Linked DNA regions of Homo sapiens. The protein of the gene in region 3 interacts with the protein of the main gene of each other region in a biochemical or structural test. Each region holds a gene or a part of one and is shown on either strand. Other genes may lie near its edges.

Region 1 (7,031 bases), on a different chromosome or scaffold from region 3:
TGACGTGCTCCAGGGCTGACTCGGCCTCCTCCCTCCAGCAACCAGGACTTAGGCCAGGGCTGCCATTCCTCGAGGAGCCAGCAGGGGACAAGGTGGCAGCCCCAACTCCTCCCTTCAAGGCCAACTCTGGGCCACATCCACCTCTGTCCCAGCCAGGCCCTGGGGACTCAGTGGGGGAGGGACACAGCTGCTGAGCGACAACCGTTAAGAACCAGCTCCAGAGGCCAGAGCTGTCTTGGGGACCAGACAGGCTGGCTGGGCCGTGAGAATGGGGATCCTCCCATGGGAGGGAACCGTCCCAGAAGTCTCCAGGGCCCTCAGCGGCCAGACGGCTCTCCTTCCGGAAGAGACCCCCGGGTCACCACACGCAGAGCCAGAAAGGGTCCAGTTATTTCATTTTTACTATTTCACATTTTCAGCAAACAAATCGAGGTGCAAACAGGGTTTATTTCACATTAATATATTAACTGGATTTTTTGTCAAATAAATAGGGAATTCTCTTTAAATAACCATCTCCTCACTTCATGGCCAGTCCAGGGACAAACAAGAGTGAATGTTAGCGCATCCAGGGGCACAAAGCTTAAGGGGAAGAAGCAGGCTGGGGGGCTGGTGGCAGGTCCCGGCCAGCACACAGGGTCAGGGGCCCTTGTTCCCGGCCCCACCCAGCAGCCACCAAGTGGACAGACATGCATTCTCTGGTTCCAGTCAGGAAGCTCCTTCTAGAAGGAAGTGAGAGGTGAGGGAAAGCAAATTCCAGAAACACCAGCAAAAGGCAGAAGGGCTTCCTCCCAGCCTCGGCGGCCCTGCCCCGACGCCACCCAAGCCCTGGAAGCTCATTTTACAGCTTCAAAAGTCACACAGGGTGGCAACAACATGACCCAGGACAGGGAAGGGAAGGAAGGGTGGCGGGGGCTGCAGCTGGACCCTGGCTGAGTGGAATGCGGGCGCGGTGGCCTTCTGAGACCAGCACAGACCAGCAGAGGGAATGTGAGCAGGGTCTGGCAGGGCCCGGGAAGACACCTGGCTGGTCTGAAGTGGCTCATGAGGCTGAGTGTAGCAGTGGGTGCCAGACTGAGGGAGCTGGACTGCGGTGGAGGAGGTGGCCAGAGAGTCCCTTCGAGGGGAGAAGCTGAGAGTGAAACAGGAACAGGGGATGCTCCGTGCTCCCAGAAGAGCCCCAGACGGTGAGGGAGGTACGCTGGGCAGCACTGTGGGCTCCGGGCTGGCATGGGAAGCTGGGCGGCACCTCTCCCGAGGCCGGGGGCCCTAATGTCCCACAATGCTAGTTCCTGGTAATTGTTTATGATCAGACCTGGAGGGAGAACAAGGCGCCCCCTCCCCTCCCCAAGCCCCAGCACAGCCCCGATGGGAGGGGTAGGGTAGAGAGATGAGGGTGGGAGGCAGGGAGGCAGGAGGGCCTACTGGGTCTTCTTATCTTCCGGTGGGTAGTAGGGAGGTGGCGGCGGCTGGCTCTAAAGAAGGGAGAAAGGAGAGACTTGCATTAGAAGGTTTAAAACATGGTGCGGTCATCCCCCTGCGGCTCCCAGCATCTGCGGCTGTGGGGCTGCACCGGCACTGCCAAGCCCTCTCACCGTGGGCATGTAGACGTTGTGAGGATTGCCTGGGTTGTAATAGGCGCTGGCGGCTGCTTCTGCGGCCTTGGCTTCGGCTGTGAGAGCAAACACACCTGGTGTCGGTGACAAGTTCTCCTCCCCCTGAGCTCAGCTAAGAGACCCCGGGCCCCCATGGCTCGGGGCAGCTGGTGCTGGGGGTCCAGTTCCACCAATGAGAGCAGCAGGTGAGGTTTCCTGAGCACATGCCACGCGCTGGCACGGTCCTTTCCAGGCCCATCGCATGTCTCACCTCATCTAATCCTTGAGCCAATGCCCCAGGTGCCACTGTGACCGACCAGCTGAGTGTAGATGAGAGGATCGAGAGGCACACAGGGTGACCTTCCCCGCCCAGGGCACATGGATAGCTAAGGGATGGGGGTGGGGCCAGAATCTAGCTCCGCTCCACCAGGCCACAGCCCTGCTGGGCCCCTGGGGTAGTCCAGGGGTCATCCATCATCTGCGGCTCTCAGCAGTCTCTGGCCATTCTGAGGCTCTCTGTGCGACATCGGGGAGGAGAGGGCTGGTCCCGAAGGGCTGCCAGCACCCAAGGGCCCTCACCTGCAGGAGTGGAGGGGACATCGGGGCCGCTGACCGGAGGTTCCATGGGCCCAGGGTAGGGCGGTGGTGGGGGCTGCACGTATCCCATGGCCCCGTCCATCATGGGGGGTCCTGGATAGAACTCTGCTCGGTGAGAGAGTAACAAGGACATGGTGAGCACCCGGCTGCGGCCCCCTCCCGGGTGAGGGGGGCCTCTCCAGCTCCTTCGTTGGTCCTGAAGCAGCTCAAGGAATAAAGTCTCCCTGGCCTGGGGGGAGCCTGGGTAGGTGGGCTCATGAGGGGAGTGGGGGCAGCAAAGGACACACTCACCAGGTGGGGGCGGTGGATAGGGGTAGCCAGGAGGGCAGGGGTACATTCCATTGGCGACTGGCGGGGGATAGACATAGGCCCCGCTGGGCATGTAAGAGTAGCCATAGGCTCCACTGGGGACTTCACCTCTGGAGGCTACGAGTACAAGGGGAAAGAGAAATGAGCGTGGCCTGCCTTGGGGCGGGGAGAGGGCAGCCCCGCTGCCTGCAGATGGGAGCTACTGGGTCTCAGGAATGTGCCCCGCAGACATCCTCTGTCCATCCCACTCCACCCTCCACCCATACTCGGGGGGCCACCTTGGTCAGGGATGAGAGAGGACGGGAGAGGTCAGAGCCAGGGGAAGGCAAGGGAGGTCAAGGGCAAGGCTGGAGGGTGGACAGAGGCCGGGAGGGAGGCTCAGGGCTGGGGTAGGAGTGAGCTGGCGGAGGATGTCTGCTGGCCCATCCCTCGGTCATTTTCAATGGCTGCGGAACCGCAGTCGAATGGTTGGTTTAGTGTTTGTTTTATGAGGCCATAGTAAAGTGTCCTTGAGTCCAAACAGCTTTGTCAAAACGTCATCCACCTGCCCCAGGCAGGGAAACGCAGTCTCTGAGGTACAGGACAGAGCTGATGCCAATGACAGCTTTCCTTCCCAACTCCTAGGCCTGGTCAGCCTGGTGCCCAAACACTTACCTCTTGAGTTCTTGAAAAAGCAAAACGAAAAGGAAGCAAACTCATACCAAACCCCTACATGTTTAGTGTGTCTTTAGCCCCTAATCTTCGGAGCCTGGATACCTTGAGATGCCACCTGGAGCATCCGCTGTCCGAACTCAATGGCGCCCCCTGCCGTGAAAGTCAACTTGTAGGAAGCAGAGCCTTCCCAGCCACCTGAAAGGGGAAGGACAGTGAATAAACAGCACAGGAAAAGAAAACTTATGCCCAAAGAGATGGCTGTTTTCCTCTCCAGGACTTCATCCAACGCCCGGGAGGCCTGCGGGGGCTGGGCCTGCACTGTGATGGGGACTTCCTGGTGCCATGGTTTCCAGCCTGCTGCCTGCATAGGAGCCAGCACTGCAGCCTGGCCTGGCCCTGCTGTACTCGCTTCCCCCTTTGGAACAATGGCCTCTCCTTCCTGGAACAAGCCTGTCCTCCCACCCTTGGCCCAATATGTACACGGGTGCCAAGGCCACATCAAGGTTTCTCTCCGCCCCCAGTCAAGCACTCGGCAGCTTCACAGGAACAAGCCCACTCAGCAACAGCCGACCTTAAAATTCAGAGCAGACCTCTCGTCCTAAGGGGGCCCAAGGACAGACTCCGGCCCCTCTAGCCTGGCTTCTGCCCAAAGGGGGACCAAGAGTGTCTCAATAGCAAGGGCGGGCCTGGCTGGGTGTCAAGGGGAAGGCAAGTTCAATGCAGAGGTCTCTGGGGCCTGCCAAAAAGCCAGCCCCAAAGCAGGGTGACTCTGGCTTCCCAGAGGCAGCTGCCTCTTCCTGGCTCTCATGAAAAGGCCCCTCTCAAGAACCTGATGCAGCTCCTTCCTGAGTCTAAAATTTGTATGCGCTCGCCAAGTTGCACTAAGCATCTTGACTCAGTCCGCAGGCTTCTGCAGACTTCACGCTCTGAAAAGCTGATCTGAGCTGCTGTCTTTCATGCCAGCATTTTCCCCACCTCTTGGCAATCAAACCCCACCAGCTGGCAGCCCAGAGCTGGGAAGAGGTCATGGCTAGGGCGATAAGGGTCTGAAGGGGACGCCCCCACGGCGGCAGTCAGAGGTTCCCAGGACACCTCCCTGCAGGCCCCATGCGTGTCCCTGAGTTCCCATCACCTACCTCCCGCTTCCGCCTTCACTGTTCCCTTGATGTAGTTTGCACCAAATACGGGCTGCTTGATCTCACAGTCTTTCATGAGATAAAATGGCATCATGAAGGACTGCATGGCATCCTTGCCCTTGGACAGAAAGATGACCTGCAGGGAGAGAGGGTGAGGCCATCAGTACTAGAAGCACAGCCCACGCTGCCATGCTTCCCGCCTGCTTCCTGGGAGTGACGAATCCTCTCCCAGTGCCAGGGTCCAGCAGCCCCATGGCTCTCTCTGTGCCAGACACTCCTGGAGAGAGCTTTGGAAAGGGAAAGGGCTCACCGCAGCCTGGAGAGGCCAAGCTCACGCACACGGGAGAAAAACGTGCTGGTCACAGATAGTATCTATGAGCAGGGCAGACTGCTTTGTCACTGACGTGGTGGGGTGGTGGCAGTGTTGCCTAAGTGAAGGGGCCTACGAAGCTAGGGAAGGACAGGCAGAGGCAAGGCAGGGATGGGTTCCTGAAAGAGGGGGGTCTCCAGCCTGAACTCTCCAGAACTGAGAATGATGGTGCAGTAGGTCGCTAGCTCCCATTGAGGGGGGCTATAAACAGCAACAAGAGCTCTCCTGGAGCCTGTGCCTGGAGAAACCCTTGGGTTTTATTTTTTCTTTTCTTTTCTTTTTTTTTTTTTGAGATGGAGTCTTACTCTGTTGCCTGGGCTGGAGTGCAGTGGCGCGATCTTGGCTCGCTGCAAGCTCCGCCTCCCGGGTTCACGCCATTCTCCTGCCTCAGCCTCCTGAGTAGCTGGGACTACAGGTGCCCGCCACCATGCCCGGCTAATTTTTTGTAGTTTTAGGAGAGATGGGGTTTCACCGTGTTAGCCAGGATGGTCTCGATCTCCTGACCTCATGATCCGCCCGCCTCGGCCTCCCAAAGTGCTGGGATTACAGGCATGAGCCACCGCACCCGGCCCCAGCCAGGGTTTTAAACCCACGACTTTTATCTGTGACTGAAGGTGCCAAGTTGAGCCTCCAGAGATGGGGTTTTGAGACTCTCCTGTCTTTGTGAAGTCATGGAGATTAAAACTTGAAAATGTGCTCCTCTTCTTCCAGCTGTCTTTGAGTCTAAGTCTTTTTTTTTTAGGCAGGGTCTCACTCTGTTGCCCAGGCTAGAATCCAGTGGCATGATCCCAGCTCACTGCAGCCTCAACCTCTCCAGGCTCCAGTTATTCTCCACCTTACCTCTCGGGTAGCTGAGACTAGAGGCATGTGCCACCACACCCAGCTAATTTTTGTATTTTTTGTAGAGATGGGGTTTTGCCATGTTGCCCAGGCTGGTCTCGAACTCCTGAGTTCAAGTGGCCTGCCTACCTTGGCCTCCCAGAGTGCTGGGATTACAGGCATGAGCCTCCGCACCAGCCTGTCTTTGAGTCTAAATCTTGAGTAGCCACAGGCAGCAATCCTTTTCCAAGAACATCCATTTGTATTTCTCAACCTCTCAGAGTCCACGTGGGTAACTCTCAGGCAGGGCCCATTCTGCAGCCTGGCATTTGTCATTCTGCGGGGTGGTACCGGGCTCTCTGCCCAGTCCGGAGGCCGTGCCATGCAACTGTACCCTGTTTACTGGATTTCTCACTCTGGATACACACAGGGCTTCATGGGCTACTCTCACAGAAAACAAAATATTAATAATAATAGTCTGGCCTCCAGGCCCAAGTCATGCCAGCGGCTGCATCCAACTCTATAGAGATTTTGCAGCAGCGGCTCTGGAATTGACATGGGTTCACTGCCCAGTGGTCAGGTCAGTTACACAAAGAGCCTGGTGATTCTGGAATCCAGGAGCATGTGACAGAGAAACAGGCAGAGTGAAGCACTAACACTCACCAGGATTCAGAGGCCACCTGACTCATGAGGCTGAGGCAGACCTGAGACTAAGACTCACGTCACCTCCAACAGCAACAAGCCTCTCAACCAACTGCCCTGCTGTGCAACTCACCCGGTAAGGGGTAAGGTAGACAGTGCCTTTCTTGGTCCCTTTGAAGGCTTCTGGCACGTTCTTCATGTCATTGAATGTGAGTTCCACGTGATCATAGGACATTAGGATGCTGTGATGAGAAAAGAGGAAAAGCCTCAATGAGACAGTATGGAGACGCGACGTCACCCAGACACTGGGCCTTTCTCCCAAGCAGCTGCCCGGCACGTCAGCTCTCATAACCTCTCAATAGTGCGGCATTAAAACTATTCATAGGGCTGGGCGCGGTGGCTCACGCCCGTAATCCCAGCACTTTGGGAGGCCGAGGCGAGCGGATGACCCCTGGTCAGGAGTTTGAGACCAGCCTGGCCAACATGGTGAAACCCCATCTCTACTAAAAATACAAAAAAATTAGCCAGGCACCGTGGCGGGCACCTGTAATCCCAGCTAGTCAGGAGGCTGAGGCGGGAGAATCGCTTGAACCCAGGAGGCAGAGGTTGCAGTGAGCTGAGATGGCGCCACTGAACTCCAGCCTGGGCAACAAGAGAGAAGCTCTGTCTCAAAAACAAATAAATAAATAAAGCCATTCATAGGGCCAGGCGCAGTGGCCCACACCTGTAATCCCAGCACTTTGGGAGGCTGAGGCGGGTGAATCGCTTGAGCCTAGGAGTTTGAGACCAGCCTGGGCAACATGGTGAGACCTCATCTCTACAAAAAAACTAAAAACCAACAAAAAAACCCATTAATATAGCCATGGAAGAAATGAGCAGGTTGGGGGTTCTGTAAAATTTCCCAAACCCCGC
Region 2 (4,153 bases), about 53 Mb from region 3:
AGCGCGGGCTGCTGTGCAAGAGCGAGCGCTGCGTGAACACCAGCGGCTCCTTCCGCTGCGTCTGCAAAGCCGGCTTCGCGCGCAGCCGCCCGCACGGGGCCTGCGTTCCCCAGCGCCGCCGCTGACGCCGCCGACGCCGCCCTCGGCCCAGACCTCGGTGATCACTGAGGGATTTCCGCGAGCTCGGCCTCACTTCTGCCCCGACTTGTGGCTCGGACCCAGGGACCTTCAGGGCCCGCAGACCCTCCCGGCGCCTTGAGACCCGAGGCGCCCCTACCGGCCCCCCTCCCCGGTTAGCGGGCGGTTGTAAGGTCTCCGGCGGGCGCTGCCTGCCTTCCTCCCAGAGGGTGTTTCCTAGAAACTGATAAATCAGATCGTGCCTCTTTACCCTTGGCTTTCGAAGCAAATTGATGTTCACGTCTGACGTGGGCGCGGGCTGCGCAGGGCGGCGCCAGACCCCAGCCGCCTCCCAGGGGCTAGACTGAGCCCGGCACAAGGGGTGTGAAATAGAATTTATTGTGGCTCTGATTATGTACACGTGAGATGGCCTGGCTGGGCCGGCCGGGCTCACATGGTTTGTACAATAAATACATCTGTGGGGCGGGCTCTCCGCAGCCGGGAAGGGCCACCGCCACGGTTCAGTCCAGCTTCCGGGCTCCCAGCTTCATGGGGCCCTTGGCCACCTTCCTCTCGGCGCGTTTGGCCTCCATCTCCCGCCGCCGCTCCTCGCGCTTCTTCCGGGCCAGCTCAGCCTTGACCTGTCCTGGCGTCAGGAAGGGGAGCCCCGGTCTCAGCTCTCCAGCCAGTGCCTGCCGGGGGCCTGTAGGGGCGGGCTAGTCGGGGAGCCCTAGTCTTCAGCCCACCCAGGGGAAGCACTTACGACTGTCAGTCTCGAGGCCCTCCCAGTTGTCCTCACCCCAAGAGTCTGGCCTCGGCTGTAAAGAGAAGTGTGGGCTGCAGTGGGGCCCACTTCTGGCTGAGGTCCACCATCTCTACCCTCTCGCCAGACCTGTGCTGGGTACCTGGGTGCTGGGACGTGCAGACAGGGTAGCGAAGGGGTCGCCCTTGTCGCTGGACTCTGGGCCACCCCAGTTATACTCGCTGGCCAGCCGTGTACCGTCAGGAGGTGGCTCCTGGGAGCTTGGCTCCTGCCAGCCCTGTTCCCAGGAGCCCTCAGCTTCCCAGCTGCTCCAGTCGGACTCTGGGGATTTGGAGGATTTGTGGTCGGAGTTGCTGACCTGTAGAAGAGCGGGAGGGGGAAGTAGCCCTGGGCCCAAGGAGGAAAGAGCCCCATACACACACCTCCCCACCAGACCCAGCTCACCTGACTAGCACGGCTCACTTGGCCCCCGGTGCTCCAGTCGTCCTGCTGGGCCAGCACAGACTCGGCCTCCTGCTGCAGTGTGGGAAGGGACCACTGACTCCCACCCCATGCTAAAGGGCAAGTGAGCCCGCCCCAGCATCATCCCAGCCACGGGCCCCACCACTGTCTTTTGCCTTCCTCCTCATTTGCTCCTCAGGCCCTGTTTCCCATCTATTAAATGGACGCTGACCCTGGCCTGCCCTCACCCCTCTTTAAGGCTGGGGAATGAGATCTAGATGCCCCTTCCAACAGCCTTGAGGGCCAGAAACTGCTGCTGTCAGCCAGATGGGGAAATTGGGCCCCCAGCTCTGCCCCATTCTGAGGACAGCCCCAGTCCTCCCTCAGCCCAACCTGAGCCCATCCCCCAAGCAGAACTGGTCTGGTTCTAGACCCAGGAGTGGCCTCTCCTTGCTGACCCCCATGGCTGGGTGGGCACTGGAGGAGGGGAAAGGGGGACGGTGTGGGTAAGAGTGAGGAAGTTCAGGGAATGCCCCAGGCACCATCTGCCTAGCCTGCTCCCTGGGGCCGCTGGGGTTGAATGGGGCCTGCTGCTGGCTCTGGCCTACAATGGCCACTCCATGAGGCCTACGTGCCAGGGATGCTGTGCTGATGAGGACAGGCCAACTCCAGCCAGGCCCCACAGAAGCTCCCTGAATGGCAGCCTGTGGATTTGAGCTGGGGTCCCCTGGGGAGGCTCCCTCAGCCCCACACACCTCCAGGCTGCCCCAGTCTTCGTCGTCCCATCTGTCAGCAGTGCTGCTGTCCTCTGCTGTGTCCTTGTCCTCCTCCTGCGTCTCCCAGTGGCCTGAGGTTGTAGGGGTGGCAGGAACAGGGGTGGGGGCTGGGGCAGGAACTCCTGGGGAGCAGAGGCTCACTGAGCTTTCAGGGGGGTCTTGGGACAGGGCAGAGGCTGCTAGGGGAAGGGGGCTACTGGGGGGAAGGGGCACCAAGGAAGCCCACAGGGTGACTGGAGCCTACCCAGCTCCTATATCCCCTTCACCATCCCCGGGGGAGTCAGACAGTAAGAGTTCCTGGGTGCCTGCAGCTCTCAGCCCTCTCAGCCACTGATGCAGCTAGGCCAGGACACTCACCTTCAGGCGTGGGTCTTTGGGGAATGTTGGTTTCTGTTGGGGCAGTGGTTGGGTGCGAACGGATCAGCTTGGAGGTGAGTGAGGAGACCCCGGTCACGGCCCAGCCTGCCCAGCTAGCTGCGGCTCCTCCCATGCCAGGGCTGGAGGCTGCATGGACATCCTTCTCTGGGCAGTGGCATGAGAGAGAGGTGGGTATGGGCACGTCAGGCACCCATGGGTGACAGGACAGCAGGAACTGACAGTGCCCTGCAGCCACCCCTCCTTTCTCCAGGCCTGATTTCTCCCATCTGTGAAGGGGGAGCTGAGTCAAGTCTGCTCACTAGGACCTTTCAGAAACTCCAGTGGGGGTGGGACACAAACAGGTCACAGTCAAGGACATGGCAGGGAAAGAGGGAACACGAGTGTAAGCCACTCACCCACTTCCTCCAGCTGGGTCGGGTCCTCCGACACAGACTCCAATTTGGACAGGAAGCTCCGAATGGCCTTGAAGGCCTGTGGGGTAACGAGGCAGAGCTGGGGTCTCTGGGGTTCCCAAGAACCTACCAGGCCAGCTAGGGGCTGACATCCCCTACAGCCCCAGCCCAGGGCCCAGGCCCAGCTGTGCCTCACCTGGTCTCGCACGGATTTCTCAGGATCTACAGTGAGACCGCAGAGCACAGGCAGGATCTTCTGGGCACAGTCGTTCATTGAGTAGAGGTTGTGGGTGGCAGCAAAGCCCAGGACACCCGCAACCCGGGACGGTGCAAACGGGTCCCTAGTGGCTCGGCTGAAGGCAGAGGTAAGGACCCTGTGTCTGGTCTACGATGGGGCAGGAAAGAGGGCTCCTGAGTGTAGGGTCAATGTTGGGACCCAGAACCACCAGCCCTTACTTCCCAGAATGGGACCACCCATAGGTCCCCAGAATCTGAAAAATATGAATGAATCACTTAAATGGGGAGAGTTGACCTAAAACTCTGGACCTGGGCTTCTCTTCCCAAATCACTGGGTTCCACACTGCCTCAGGGCATGGGACCACAACAGCAGCTGTCCCCAGGGCTCGGACACAGGCTCCCTTCCTCCCTGCCCAGCTGACCGTTCATTCCTGTTAACTGTCTGGGCACGGCAAGCAACTGAACTTACAAACCCTGGCTGAAGGGATGCACACAGGCCATGGGGCCAAGCACGCCTGGATTCAGATCCCAGATCCCTCCTGACTGTGTGACTTCGGCCAACTCACTCCTCCTCTGGGAACCCAGATATGGGGCCAACAGCGTGCAGGGTCTAAGTCTCTGGGAGAATGAAGGCCCCCACACACAAGACTCCTGGCCCTGGAGGAGGCTGTGGTCCTGCGACAGGGACCGGGCTCCAGCAGTTGTGCAGGACACTCACGCTAGCACTGAGGTAGGAGCCGATTTTGCCCAGGCAGACTGTGGTGTTGCAGCGGATGGGGCCCTGTTCATCCTTGGCCTGTAGCCGTGCAAAGTGCTTCATCAGCTCCACATTGAGGTTGGCCTCGTTCAGCTTTGGGGCCAGGAGCAGCATGGACTGTGGGGCAGAAATGAGTGGGAACTGTGGGCTGTGGCGGGCAAAGGGCCTTGTGCAGGAACAGCCTCCTGGCAGCCCTCATCCCAGAGCACACCCATCAAAGCCTGCAAGGCCACCTCCCAGCCTGGGCCTGGCCCTGTCCAGCATGTTGAAGAAAGGGACCCCATTTCTGTCC
Region 3 (7,031 bases):
GGCGTCCCGAAGTGCTGGGATTACAGGCATGAGCCGCTGCACCCGGCTGTAAGAATCAGGGTCTTGGGCGTGGTGGCTCACGCTTGTAATCCCAGCACTTTGGGAGGCTGAGGCGGGTGGATCACCTGAGGTCAGAAGTTTGAGACCAGCCTGACCAACGTGGTGAAACCTCGTCTCTACTCAAAATACAAAAAAATTAGCTGGGCATGGTGGCGGGCACCCATAATCCTACTACTCAGGAGGCTGAGGCATGAGAATTGCGTGAACCCAGGAGGTGGGGGTTGCAGTGAGCCGAGATCGTGCCACTGCACTCCAGACCGGGTGACAGAGTTAGACTTTGTCTTAAAAAAAAAAAAAAAAAAAAAATCAGGGAGTTAGGCTGGGCGCAGTGGCTCACGCCTGTAATCCCAGCAGTTTGGGAGACTGAGGCAAGCGGATCACCTGAGGTCAGGAGTTCAACACCAGCCTGGCCAACATGGTGAAACCCCGTCTCTACTAAAAATACAAAAATTAGCTGGGCGTGGTGGTACACACCTGTAGTCCCAGCTACTCCGGAAGCTGAGGCAGGAGAATCACTTAAACCCAGGAGATGGAGGTTGCAGTGAGCCGAGATGGCACCACTGCACTCCAGCGTGGGCAGCAGAGCGAGACTCTGTCCCAAAAAATAAAATAAAGACTAGAAGTAGCTAATAAAGGGATTTAGGTTATTGAAATTTATGTACTCTAAAGGATAAGACTTGGAAATATAGCTGCTGATAAATTCTAAATCTTTCTTTTTTATTGGTGTCCACGCTTAGATCCCTGAATATTGCCGAGCCTTAGAAGAGAATGAAATATCTGAGCACTGTTTTGATTTGATTTTTGCTTTTGATGAAATTGTCGCACTGGGATACCGGGAGAATGTTAACTTGGCACAGATCAGAACCTTCACAGAAATGGATTCTCATGAGGAGAAGGTGTTCAGAGCCGTCAGAGAGGTAAATAGGATCTTCTCTGGGACTACCTGTTTGTATGTCTTTCTCTTAGGCTTCACTAATCTCATTTTCCTATTTTTACTTACTAATGTAGACTGTATTCAAAACTATGTCCAGGCTAGGCACAGTGGCTCATGTCTGTAATCTCAGCACTTTGGGAGGCGGAAGTGGGAGTATCACTTGAGTCCAGGAGTTCAAGACCAGACTGGACAGCGTAGTGAGACCCTGTCTCTATAAAAAGTAAAAAAAAAATTAGCCAGGCATGGTAGCACGTGCATGTGGGTCCCAGCTACTTGGGAGGCTGAGATGGGAGGATCACTTGAGCCCAGGAAGTTGAGGCTGCAGTGAGCTGTGATTGTGCCACTTGCACTCCAGCCTGGGTCACAGAGTGAGACCCTGTCTCAACAAAAACCCAAAAAAAAAAGCTACATTAATGTATGTCTTTTTCTGTAGACTCAAGAACGTGAAGCTAAGGCTGAGATGCGTCGTAAAGCAAAGGAATTACAACAGGCCCGAAGAGATGCAGAGAGACAGGGCAAAAAAGCACCAGGATTTGGCGGATTTGGCAGCTCTGCAGTATCTGGAGGCAGCACAGCTGCCATGATCACAGAGACCATCATTGAAACTGATAAACCAAAAGTGGCACCTGCACCAGCCAGGTATAATCCAGTGTACTTTAGAATACCAGGTGAAGGGTGTATATGTGTCTATCTTTGAAGTCATAATCTGATTTCTTGGAAAGCTGTAAATAAAGAAGGACTTGATGAAGTAAGATATGATGTTACATTTGGCCACATACAATATGAGGATAAAGAAGAAATCTGAATGTGGTGTTTTTCCTTTTGTATAAAAGAGAGTTATAAATTATGTCATGACCTCAGTTTCCTATGAGAGTTGCCTTATTGTGGGGAGGAAAGGGCTATTTAATGCTTTATGGAATGTAGATTTTTAATCTTGATGTTCATTGATTGATTTTAGGGGAAATCTGTGAATTACCCAAAATTATATACAAAATTTTGTGCACAGGTGTATTTCTCTGGACGGGAGATACAAAATTTTCATCAGATCATGTGTGCTTGTAAAAATAAACCTTTGGGTAATGAATTTCAAATTCTTCCACTTAGGCCTTCAGGCCCCAGCAAGGCTTTAAAACTTGGAGCCAAAGGAAAGGAAGTAGATAACTTTGTGGACAAATTAAAATCTGAAGGTGAAACCATCATGTCCTCTAGTATGGGCAAGCGTACTTCTGAAGCAACCAAAATGCATGCTCCACCCATTAATATGGAAAGGTAAGTAGGAACTTTGAGTAAGAATTCAAGCTTTGAATACAGTCCACATAATTTTTTAAAAATCTTATTTCAGTGTGCTATAAATTCTTTCTCTGTCTTTTAATCGTTCCTGATTTAAAAGATTTATTCAGAGCAGATTCTACATATTAACATAAGATCGTTTTTGGTTTTGTTTTGTTTTATTTACTTATTTTTTTTTGAGATGGAGTCTCACTCTGTCACCCAGGCTGGAGTGCAGTGGTGTGATCTCGGCTCGCTGCAAGCTCTCCCTCCCAGGTTCACGCCATTCTCCTGCCTCAGCCTCCCGAGTAGCTGGGACCACAGGCGCCCACCCCTACGCCCGGCTAATTTTTTTGTATTTTTAGTAGAGATGGGGTTTCGCCGTGTTAGCCAGAATGGTCTCGATCTCCTGACCTTGTGATCCGCCTGACTCAGCCTCCCGAAGTGCTGGGATTACAGGCGTGAGCCACCACGCCCGGCTGTTGTTTTGTTTTATTTTTTTGAGACAGGGTCTTACTATGTTGTCTAGGCTGGCCTCCAACTCCTGAGCTCAGTTAATCTTCCTGCCTCAGCCTCCCAAGTAACTGGGATACAGGCATGCGTTGCTGCACCTGACCTTTTCCTTTTTCCTTAAACCATGATTGGGGGCCCTCAGCCACCTATTTTCTATGAAGTTTAGAACTTTCCTTTTACAGCTAAATTAAAGTTACTTGTAGTCACACCTGGTATATAGCGTATCTCTTAGAATGCACTTGAATTAGGGGACTAGAGCTATGGTGACCCCACACTGTATTTTGGCATGACTTTTTCTAATTAAAGTCTAAGTAGAACCAATCTTTAATCCAAAACTTGTAGATATCTTTAATAGCAAATTAATATATTTTGCATTTTTATTTTATTTATTTATTTTTTTGAGATGGGGTTTCACTCTGTCACCCAGGCTGGAGTACAGTGGTGCAATCTCAGCTTGTTGCAACCTCTGCCTCCCAGGTTCAAGTGATTCTCCCACCTCAGCCTCCCAAGTAGCTGGGACTACAGGCATGCACCACCACGCTGGGCTAATTTCTGTATTTTGGTAGAGATGGGGTTTTGCCTTGTTGCCCAGGCTGGTCTCGAACTCCTGGACTCAAGCAATCTGCCTGCCTCGGCCTCACAAAGTACTGGGATTACAGGCGTCAGCCACCATGCCCAGCCATCTTTTGCAGTTTAAATATTTGAAGCCAGTATGGAATATTTTGATTCATCTCTTATCTCAGGGCTGTGGTACTGGTTGGTGACATTTTTAAGTGGTAGTTATCAAGTTCACATATTCGTGACTCAGATTTCTCGTCTTGAAGCCAGACCTTCTACTGTTGCTGATGGTTTTGAGGTCAAGTGAAAGATAATACCAGGAGGATACCTTTATCAGGTGTGCATAAAAGAGGAGTATTTACTCTTTTTCTTTCTTCTTTCCTTTCTTTCTTCCTTTCTTTCTTTCTTGACAGAGTCTTGCTCTGTCTCCCAGACTGGAGTGCAATGGCACGATCTTGCAACCTCCACCTCCCGGGGTCAAGCAATTCTCCTGCCTCAGCCTCCCAAGTGGCTGGGATTACAGGTGCACGCCATCACACCCGGCTAATTTTCTTATTTTTAGTAGAGACAGAGTTTTGCCGTGTTGGCCAGGTGGGTCTCGAACTCCTGACCTCAAGTGATCTGCCTGCCTCTGCCTCCCAAAAGTGCTTGGATTATAGGCGTGAGCCACCGTGCCCAGCCAAGTATTTACTCTTTATATGCCCTGTTCTGTATGAAATGAACAGGGTTACATTGGGATAAATTTCTTGATTCACTAAAGCCGCTGTGCTCTTCCTAGTGGTTGCTTTGAGTGAGACAGAGGCTTCACACTTTTAAAAAGATATTCCTGAGTGCAGTGGCCCACACCTGTAATCTTAGCACTTTGGGAGGCTGAGGTGGGCGGATTGCCTGAGCTCAGGAGTTCAAGACCACCCTGGGCAACATGGTGAAACTCCATCTCCACTAAAATACAAAAAATTAACCCCTTCTCCACTAAAATACAAAAAATTAGATGGGCGTGGTGGCACACACCTGTAGTCCCAGCTACTCAGGAGGCTGAGGCAGGAGAATTGCTTGAACCCGGGAAGCAGAGGTTGCAGTGAGCCAAGATGGTGCCACTGCACTCCAGCCTGGGCGACAGAGTGAGACTCTATCTCCAAAAAAAAAAAAAAAAAAAAAATGTTGGAGATCATCACATATTAAAGAGAATTTGAGACACTGTTTTTTTCTAAATGATAAATTGCCTCTTGAGCACAGAGCAAACTTTTGTGAAGGTAAAATGGTACCATGCATTGTCTTAAGATGCACTCCTTTATGGTCTTGACTCTGATGCCTTTGTTTCTAGGAAGACCTAAGAGGTTGGAACAAAGAACATGGTAGGATAACAAAATATTTTTTGTAGCCTCTGTAGTTCATCCAGCCAAACGTATGTCTATTACTGAATATGAATAGATTGTACTTAATACTTGCCTCTAGCAGCAGCAGTTTTTAATCTTTTAAAAATTGGATTATACATTCATATAGTACAAAATTCAAAAGTTGTTAACAGTCAGAAGTCTTCCTCTCACTCAGCCATGCCAGTTTCTCATTTTGGAGACAACTAGTATTAACAGAGTTTTTTGTGTATCCTTCTAAGGGGGATGGTCTGTGATATACAGATGAATAAAAAACATGTATACAGTGTGTCTATTTTTCCCCCTTTTATGCAAAGCAGTAAAACTAGACACGTCTTCCAATTGCATTTTTCATTTAATTATTTTGGAGATAAGAATCTCCTTATTTGAAACTGCAGAGATATGACATCTAAATGCGCAATACCTTACCCTAGACTGGATCCTCTACTAATGTAGTGTAGAAAAAACAACTCAAACTGTTTGTTTTTTCTATTTTCTCATTCAACAGCAACAATGAACACAGAAGACTTCTGTGATCAAGTGTGTTTAGATTTTTCCGCACACATCAAGCGGTCACACCTAGCTGGTGTCCTCCAATTCAATTCAATTCTGATGCTATCTACCTGGGAATAGCCTCAGATTCTACAGGTTGAGAGTTCAGTCCCCCAAGACTGATTCTTCCTTCCCACCAGTCATAAGTCCAGACTTTCAGAACTTCTTACTGACCTCAAGTTTGGCCTCCCACGACCCCCTCTGGGGTGTTCAATTAATCTGCTAGAGCACCTCACAGAACTCAGGGAAACTTACTTGACATTTATCAGTTTGTTACAGAGGACATTTTAAAGGATGCAAATAAGCAGCCAGATGAAGAGATACATAGGGCAAGGTCTGGGAGGGTCTTGAGCACAGGAGCTTCTGTCCCCAGGGAGCTGGGGTACGCCACCCTCCTGGAAAATAGATGAGACCTTGTTCATCTTCCTGTAAGCCTGCATGTGTTCAGCTGTCCAGAAGCTTCCCAGACCCTGTCCTCTTGAGCCTTTTATGGAGACTTCATTGGATAGGCATGATTGACAGGCATGCAGAAATGTGACTGGGCAAGGGTATGACCTAATACTGATAGGCTGAGTGGGGAAACACAGCAAGGCCTGTCCAAATTCTTGGCCTCTCTGTGCAGCATTAATCTTCCTCCAGGATATGGTGCAGGACCCCTTTTGGAGATCCTGCCTTGGGCTGGTGAAAGGAGGGCAGGAGAAGGTCAAAGAGAGGTTCTTTTTTCTAAGGGCTGCTCCTGAGGCCTAAAGTGCCCCAACATTATGTATAATAAGGGATATGGGAGTTATGAGCTAGGAACCATGGATGAAAACCGGTATGTATGTATATCATAATATCACAACTACTATTAAAAATATTATTAGGTCAACTGACGAAATTGACATATGGTTGACAGATCGGATACAATTATTGTATCATTGTTAGCCTGGCATGATGGCACATGGCTGTAGTCCTTCCTACTCAGGAGGCTGAGGCAGGAGGATCACTTGAGACCAGGAGTTCAAGGTTATAGTGAACTGTGATTGTGTCTCTGAATAGCCACTGCACTCCAGCCTGGGCAACATAGCAAGATCTGTCTCTTAAACAACAACAACAGGCTGGGTGCGGTGGCTCACGCCTGTAATCCCAACACTTCGGGAGGCCGAGGCAGGCAGATCACCTGAGGTCAGGAGTTCAAGACCAGCCTGGCCAGCATGGTAAAACTCTGACTCTAGTAAAAATACAAAAATGAACCGGGCGTGGTGGCAGGTGCCTGAAATCCCAGCTACGCAGGAGGCTGAGACAGGAGAATCACTTGAACCCGGGAGGCAGAGGTTGCAGTGAGCCGAGATCACGCCATTGCACTCCAGCCTGGGCAAGAAGAGTGAAACTCTATCTCAAAACAACAACAACAAAAAGCTAAAAAAACTATCAGTGTAAATTTGTGAAGTTAATAATGGTACTGTGATTGATTATGTAAGAGAATATCCCTAATCTTATAAAATAAGCACTGAAGTATTTAGGGGTAAAGTGCCGTGTTGTATATAATCTGCTTCTTAATGGTTCAGGGAAAAAAAATCAAATGTATAACATACATATATAATGTTTAGAGAGAGAGAAACACAAGTGCAAATTATAAAACAAATGAGGTAAATATTAACAATAGGTGAATCTGGAAAAGGGTATATATGTCTTCCTTGTATAATTTTAATTTTTTTAAGCTTGAAAATACTTACAAATAGAAAGTTTTTTCAGTTGTTTGTTTTCTCACCATTGCCTACTATTCATTCGGG
Region 4 (7,617 bases), about 100 Mb from region 3:
CTACAGTAACCAAAACAGCATGGTACTGGCATAAAAACAGACATAAAGACCCATGGAAAATAACAGAACCAAGAAACAAATCCATACACCTACAGTGAACTCATTTTGACAAAGGTGCCAAGAACATACATTGGAGAAAAGACAGTCCCTTCAATAAATGGTGCTTGGAAAACTATGTGCAGAAGAATGAAACTTGTCCCCCATCTCTCAACTTACACAAAAATAAAATCAAAATGGATTAAAGGCTTAAATCTAAGACTTTAAACTATGAAACTACTACAAGAAAATATTGGGAAAAATCTCCAGGACGCTGGTCTGGCCAAAAATTTCTTGAATAATACCCCACAGGCACAGGCAACCAAAGCAAAAACGGACAAATGGGATCACATCAAGTTAAAAAGCTTCCGCACAGCAAAGGAAACAATCGACATACGTGATGAGACAACCCACAGAATGGGAGAAAATATGTGCTAACTACCTATCTCACAAGGGATTAATAACCAGATATGTAAGGAGCTCAAACAACTCTACAGGAAAAAAAAAAACTCATAATCTGATTTAAAAATGGGCAAAAGATTTGAACAGACATTTCACAAAGACATACAATTGGCAAACAGGCATATGAAAAGGTGCTCAACATCACTGATCATCAGAGAAATGCATATCAAAACTACAATGAGATATCATCTCACCCCAGTTAAAATGGCTTTTATCCAAAAGACAAGCAAAAACAAATGCTGGAGAGGATGTGGAGAAAAGGGAACCCTCGTACACTGTTGGTGGGAATGTAAACTAGTATACCCACTATGGAGAACAGTTTGGAGGGTCCTCAAAAAACTAAAAACAGGGGTACCATACGATTCAGCAATCCGACTACTGGGTATATATCCAAAAGAAAGGAAATGAGTACATCAAAGAGATATCTGGACTCCTATGTTTGTTGCAGCACTGTTTACAACAGTCAAAACTTGAAAGCAACCTAAGTGTCCACCAACAGATAAATGTATAAAGAAAATGTGGTACATATACACAATGGAGTACTATTCAGCCATAAAAAAAGAATGAGATCTTGTCATTTGCAAAAATATGGATGGAACTGGAGGTCATTATGTTACATGAAATAAGTCAGGCATAGAAAGACAAACTTCACATGTTCTCACTTATTTGTGGAAGCTAAAAATCAAAACAAACTCACGGAGACAGAGTAAAAGGATGGTTATCAGAGGTGGGAAGGGTAGTGGTAGGGAAGTGGAGATGGTTAATGGGTACAGAAAAAATGAGTTAGACCCGATATTTGATAGCACACAGGGTAACTACAGTCAATAATAATTTAATTGGACATTTAAAAATAACTGAAAGTGTAACTGGATTGTCACACAGAAGACAAATGCTTGAAGGGATGGATACTCCATTTTTCCATGTGATAATTATGTATTGCATGCCTGTATCAAAGCATTTCATGTACCCCATAAATATATACATCTACTGTGTACCCCCAAAAATTAAACATTACAAAAAGTTCAGAAATATAGTTGTTTTCTTATTTGCAAAAATGCATAAAAAATGAAAAGGTAAACTTTTCTGGAAAATACATGTTTATTCCAGTGTTCACCTAATTGTTTGGGTGGGTAATCCAAAGAACAAAGTTCTTTTGGTTTTACAAGCTAAGTAACATGAAGTTAAGTGCACGATGGAATTAAGATATTCCAATACACATCCTCAACCTGTTGCCTAGAGAAAATAATCAGCCACATTAATATATTGAAGTCTACAAAAATTATGACATTTTGAGGAATATCTAAACTATTACAATTTCTTTAGGTTTACTAAGATAAACTGAGATGTTCTATTTCAAACAACCAATATTTAAAGAAGTTCGCATTTTTAATAAAAGGTCTATCGAAGAGATCCTAGAAAAACTTTAGACAAAAATTAAGCATTTCTAATTATAAAGGAATATGAAATATGAGTTTTTTATTTTTGTTTTTTCTTTTTTCATTTCATTCTCAAAATAATATCGAAGTTTACCTAGATCATTTTTTAAGCTAATTTCAGATGGTGGTTCTGAATCCATTGGCACGTTAATTAACGTGTAGCATACGTTCTCAGCCGCCGTCATGGTTTCTGGTTATATTATAACCAATCCTTGACACAAGATTTAAGGATGCCAGAAAATCTAGAAAAATAAACACAGACATATCATTACAAATTAAAAAAAAAAAACCCACAAACAAGTACCTATAGTGACCTTTTAAAGTATTAGAAAGGGCAGGTCAATCTATATCGTGTTCCCATAAAAATAAATTCTAGTAAAAACCACATTATCAGCTCTGGCATAAGGTATATTATCTATCACTCCCTCATCGCATCCCGGTCCAGTGTTTGAGAATGCTGTATAGCCGAATGAAGGCCCACAGAACAGTGACAGTCCCCCCAGCCACACCCCACAATGTTATGGACCGTATGGTTTTTACACAACACACAATCTGCATGCTCAAGTTAAGAGACCTTGTGCCTGAATACTCTGCCAAAACCCTAAAGCGCTTTATCGCGGTCCTTGGTGGGTTCCGACTCTATGTCCGCGGGTCCCTTAATCAACGCGCTGCACCCCCACCTCGCCCCACCCGCTTCCTCCTCCCCTTCCTCCAGCAAAGCAGCCCTAGGCCTGAAAGGGTACGCCTAGGGGTCTTGGGAGGGAAAAGACCCCCGGCCAATACAAAGGACGGGATGGAGCGTCCGACCCGGAGCTTCCTAGCCCTCCGCCCCCACCCCGACCCGCACCCCCACCCGTACCCCCACCCGGTCCCTTCTGCCAGGCCCAGACGCAAGCGGCCTAGTCGCTCCCCTTCCGCATCTTCCAGCTAGAAAGCCAGTTCTTCCGACTCTGCCCGACCCACCACGCCTCTGGGACTGGGGGCTTGTGGCCCACTACCAGGCTCCGAGGGGCAGTGGTTTGGTGCAGCCGCGGATCCGTCTACTGCGGCTCCGTCTACTCCGGCTATGAACCGCAGCAGCGGCGGCGGCGGCTCCAGAGTCCTTGGCTGACGTGGAAGGGGGTGGGGTAACGACCGAAGCCACAGCCACCTAGCACCTACGGCGACTCAGAGAGGACATGCTTTCTTTGTGCAGCGCTTGCGCGCTGCAAGTATATCCTATTTTCTTCCTCTTCTCTTGTCCAGGGTTTGATTAGGCCGCAGAGCAATGAAACCACGTATTTTCTAGTTTTCCCTGCAAGCCAAGCTCTGAGTTAAGCACTATGCTAATTTAAACGCTAACTGGAAATCGTTCCTTCTTCAGGAACAGTCAAGGGGAGAAAGTGCTTGGAGAGAGGGAAACTTTTACAGGGCTCTGTTCCCGTGAAAAAGAGCTCTGGACTAGAAAGTGGAAACCCAGTAATCCTTTTTCTTGTCCACACCCTAATAAACTGGGAAAGTAACTAATACTATTGGGAAGGTAATTCAGTTATTTTATTAATTATCACTAGATTAAAATCCATTTCAGTTCTTAACATCGCTAGTAGTTTGAATCTGCCTCTCTGCAGGTAGGGCTGGAGTTATTTGAAAATCCAAAGTCACATTGGTATAATTTCTGCTTTTTATTTAATAATGGCCTCTTTCCGTGATCCTTTCTGAGCACCCAGTAGATTAGAAAAAATTTTTATGCATAAAGGGAGACAGTCACTGTTTTAAAGGATTTTACGTATCTCCAAAGACCTGTTACAGCTGCAATCAGCCATAGTACTTTCGGTTTTGCCCATTTGAAGTTCCATAGCACGCCCCGCCCCTACACCTCCCTCTGCCCACAAAAGGGTTTTATGGCCAATTATTAATAACAAAATATCTTAAAGCTTAAGCAAAATACTGCGAATAAAAACAGATCTGACGGCAACTGCCCTAGTTAACAGGTTCATCTCAGGAAGATGGAACACCAATAGTACCTCATTTATGTAGGATCTAGCTCTTTTGAGCTTTCTCTTTTTAGAACCATCAAGCAATCTACAAATTCTTTGAGCACCCAAAATTGTATTCAAAGGCCATGTGTTGACAGCACTTTAAGAGTGCCTCTCTGATTCTGTGCATTCATTTTTTTTAATATTTAATCTTAATGGTAGAGTGACATGAATACAGAGATCCCATATACTCTTTACCTAGTTTCTCCCAATGGTAACATCTTGCATAGTTATAGTACAATATCAATTTCAGGAAATTGACAGACATAATTCACCCAGCCTTGTTCAGACTTCACTAGTTTTACATGTACTCGTTTTTATATTCACTTGTAGACAATTTTATCATGCTTATATGTGTGTAATCACCAACACAGTCGAGACAGAACAGTTCTATCACAAGGATTCTCATGCTGTCCTTTGATAGCCATAGCCACCTCCCACACTAACCTGTGGCAACCACTAATAATTCTCTATGATTTTTATCATCTCAATGTTATATAAATGGAATTATACAATGTAATCTTTTGAGATTGGATTTTTTTACTGAGCATAATTCCCCTGAGATCAATCCCGGGTGTGTGTACAACAGTTTGTTCCTTTTCTGTGTATTCGTTTTTAACATGGAAGTTTTACAAATGCAGTTATCTGGTTTCCAAGCCCACTTAACTTACCAAAAAGTGACAATCTGTCAGCAAGAAATGAGGCCAAAAAAGGTATAAAAACTAGATTTACAGTAAGAAAGCTCAGTTTAGGGCCATCATGGTGTAGGACTTAAACCGTACAGACTTCATTTGCCCCAGAGGTTCATTCTGTTACAGAATAACTTTGAGGTTTCTCATGACCCCAAGTCATTAAGTTCTAAATATGAAAAGGCAAGAAAATGTAATGTTTTACATATTACTTTAGTTAGATCTGAACCTACAATTGTCATTGGCAGTGCATATATTTTTCCATATTCTTAAGTACAAAGCTTTTTGAATGGGTATAAGGACCTTAATATTAACCTCATTAACTCTTCCTGATCTGTTGTAAAATACACTTTGTTTGGGCTGTTTTACTCTAAGATGTAATTATATAATTTTGAATGCCTTTAAATTATAAATGCAGAGCAAAGACCTTGTCATTTTATCAAGGACCATAGAAATTGTGGTATCTAAAAAGTCAAGGCCTAGAGAATAGGGACTTGCCCCAAATCATGTAATGGCCAAACACTGAGTTAGAACTAGGACCTGAATCCTGTCATCTACGTTATTATTTTTATTTTTTTGAGACAAGAGTCTCACTCTGTCACCCAGGCCGGAGTACAGCGGCATGATCATAGCTCACTGCAGCCTCAGACTCTGGACTCAAGTGATTCTCCCACCTCAGCCTCCTGAGTAGCTGGGACCACAGGTGTGTGCCACCACACCAGGCTAAGTTTTAAAAATTTTTGTAGAGATGGGGTCTCACTATATTGCCCAGGCTGGTCTTGAACTGAACTCAAGCAATCCTCCCACCTCGGCCTCTCAAAGTGTTGAGATTACAGGCGTGAGCCAACACACCCAGCCACTGCCTTTTATTCCATGCCAGTTCTTCAGAGCTGCACACATACATGCTCAATAAATTCCAGGTGAATTGAGTATCTTTGTATCAAAGTGACAGGCTTTATAAAACATCATTAGGATTTTACTGTTTGTAATTATTCAACAGACTAAATGGAATATGTGAGTACAACAGACTAAACATGAAAGGGCATCACAATGAACTGTATATACAGTGGGGTTGAGTATTACTGGAGTGGGGAGGACTTTAAGTTCTAAAGTCAGTATATAAGACTAAAAATCACATTGAAAAAATTACTTAAATTGCTCCCAAAGTATAATACAGAATATTTATTTTTTTAGCTGAATACAAGCCAACTAGTGGTTTGTATTTGTGGAACAGGTGCATGTTCCACAATGATAAACATAACAATATCTTTGGTTTTATTTTTTGAGACAGAGTCTCGCTCTGTCACCTGGCCAGGCTGGAGTGCAGTGGCATGATCTCGGCTCACTGCAACCTCTGCCTCCCAGGTTCAAGTGATTCTCCTGCCTCAGCCTCCCGAGTAGCTGGGACTACAGGCGCGTGCTACCATGCCCATTTAATTTTTGTATTTTTAGTAGAGACGGGATTTTGCCATGTTGCCCAGGCTGGTCTCGAACTCTTGACCTCAGGTGATCCACCCGCCTCGGCCTCCCAAAGTGCTGGGATTACAGGTATGAGCCACAATATCTTTAAACAGCAGAATCATTCAGCAAAGACAGAGGCTCACCCAATGGAATGCATGTGGAAGAGAGATCTGCCTAAGCAAAGGGCAGATTATTATATTTCCCACTTATGCTCCCTCCCCAGACTAAATACCCATTGAGTGTAGAGGCAGGTGGGAGTTCCTGAGTTCACTATTTTGTGTGTGTGTGTGTGTGTGTGTGTGTGTGTATGTGTGTGGAAAGTTACATGTGCTTGATGCAACTCCACTGTAGGTCAAATAGCCACATGGTACTTGCGTCTAACTCCCAAGCTTGCATGGTAGATTCCTGAGGCTACTGCTGGAGAAACTGACATCTCTCACATTCCAGTACTTAGACATCTTTCCCTTAATAAGGCTCCCAGAGCTACTTTTACCATTCTCTAAGAAATCAGGGGGATTTAAACCTACTAAGGCTTTTGAAGATTTGGGAAAGTTGGGGGGAAAAAATAAACTATGAATTTTAGAGTTTAAAAGGTGTTATCACATAAATTCTCCCTTTTAACCCTCACTATAATTCTCCAAAGGGTTTCCTTAAAAAAGAGCTAAGTAACTTGCCCAAAGCCAATAGCAGCTAATTAGAATTAGGTCTAAAATGGGTTACTATCTATAAATGAATTTTTCTTCAGAAAGATGTATTATCTCAGAAAATAAAATAACTCCTCTAGATGTCAGCAGCCAAATTTTGGATTATGGTTTTTGTCTTTTTTTTTTTTTTTTTTTTTTGAGACAGAGTCTCGCTCCAGGCTGGAGTGCAGTGGCGCGATCTTGGCTCACTGCAAGCTCCGCCTCCCGCGTTCACGCCATTCTCCTGCCTCAGCCTCTCCGAGTAGCTGGGACTACAGGCACCCTCCACCATGCCCGGCTAATTTTTTGTATTTTCAGTAGAGACGGGGTTTCACCGTGGTCTCGATCTCCCGATCTCGTGATCCGCCTGCCTCGGCCTCCCAAAGTGCTGGGATTACAAGCGTGAGCCACCGCGCCTGGCCGGATTATGGGTTTTTAAAAATTAAATTAAATTAAAATTTTTTTTGAGATGGAGTTTCACTCTTGTTGCCCAGGCTAGAGTGCAATGGCACGATCTTGGCTCACTGCAACCTCTGCCTCCTGGGTTCAAGCGATTCTCCTGCCCCAGCCTCCTGAGTAGCTAGGATTACATGCATGTGCCACCACACCCAGCTAATTGTTTTGTATTTTTAGTAGAGATGAGGTTTCTCCATGTTGGTCAGGCTGGTCTGGAACTCCCGACCTCAAGTGATCCGCCCACCTCAGCCTCCCAAAGTGCTGGGATTACAGGCATGAGCCACCACGCCCAGCCAGGATTATGGTTTTTTTTTTTAAATCAGATTTCCTCTAATTTCAGTTTACATGGTCTAAGATAAAAATGGTTCTGCAATACCTG

The links.
Region 1: the proteins of ARCN1 (region 3) and WBP2 form a complex in vitro, tested with the Homo sapiens proteins (one study listed by BioGRID).
Region 2: the proteins of ARCN1 (region 3) and SCYL1 form a complex in vitro, tested with the Homo sapiens proteins (one study listed by BioGRID).
Region 4: the proteins of ARCN1 (region 3) and COPB1 form a complex in vitro, tested with the Homo sapiens proteins (2 studies listed by BioGRID).

Annotation. Positions count from the first base shown.
Region 1 is NC_000017.11:75,845,316-75,852,346, forward strand, and holds the end of WBP2 (WW domain-binding protein 2), read right to left. Parts: intron 6,362-7,031; coding exon 6,253-6,361; intron 4,425-6,252; coding exon 4,289-4,424; intron 3,348-4,288; coding exon 3,255-3,347; intron 2,616-3,254; coding exon 2,481-2,615; intron 2,295-2,480; coding exon 2,172-2,294; intron 1,670-2,171; coding exon 1,593-1,669; intron 1,473-1,592; coding exon 1,419-1,472; 3' UTR 384-1,418; downstream 1-383. UniProt on the Homo sapiens protein: Acts as a transcriptional coactivator of estrogen and progesterone receptors (ESR1 and PGR) upon hormone activation. In presence of estrogen, binds to ESR1-responsive promoters. Synergizes with YAP1 to enhance PGR activity.
Region 2 is NC_000011.10:65,535,052-65,539,204, reverse strand, and holds the end of SCYL1 (N-terminal kinase-like protein), read right to left. Parts: intron 3,979-4,153; coding exon 3,823-3,978; intron 3,253-3,822; coding exon 3,064-3,252; intron 2,947-3,063; coding exon 2,871-2,946; intron 2,620-2,870; coding exon 2,455-2,619; intron 2,220-2,454; coding exon 2,077-2,219; intron 1,397-2,076; coding exon 1,325-1,396; intron 1,239-1,324; coding exon 1,023-1,238; intron 955-1,022; coding exon of another isoform or gene 936-954; coding exon 881-935; intron 764-880; coding exon 639-763; 3' UTR 501-638; downstream 1-500. Other genes in the region: LTBP3 (latent-transforming growth factor beta-binding protein 3 isoform 1 precursor), read left to right, coding at 1-125. UniProt on the Homo sapiens protein: Regulates COPI-mediated retrograde protein traffic at the interface between the Golgi apparatus and the endoplasmic reticulum. Involved in the maintenance of the Golgi apparatus morphology.
Region 3 is NC_000011.10:118,582,382-118,589,412, forward strand, and holds part of ARCN1 (coatomer subunit delta), read left to right. Parts: intron 1-797; coding exon 798-977; intron 978-1,427; coding exon 1,428-1,633; intron 1,634-2,098; coding exon 2,099-2,263; intron 2,264-7,031. UniProt on the Homo sapiens protein: Component of the coatomer, a cytosolic protein complex that binds to dilysine motifs and reversibly associates with Golgi non-clathrin-coated vesicles, which further mediate biosynthetic protein transport from the ER, via the Golgi up to the trans Golgi network.
Region 4 is NC_000011.10:14,496,810-14,504,426, forward strand, and holds the start of COPB1 (coatomer subunit beta), read right to left. Parts: upstream 3,003-7,617; 5' UTR 2,898-3,002; exon of another isoform or gene 2,800-2,897; intron 2,177-2,799; 5' UTR 2,120-2,176; coding exon 2,029-2,119; intron 1-2,028. UniProt on the Homo sapiens protein: The coatomer is a cytosolic protein complex that binds to dilysine motifs and reversibly associates with Golgi non-clathrin-coated vesicles, which further mediate biosynthetic protein transport from the ER, via the Golgi up to the trans Golgi network.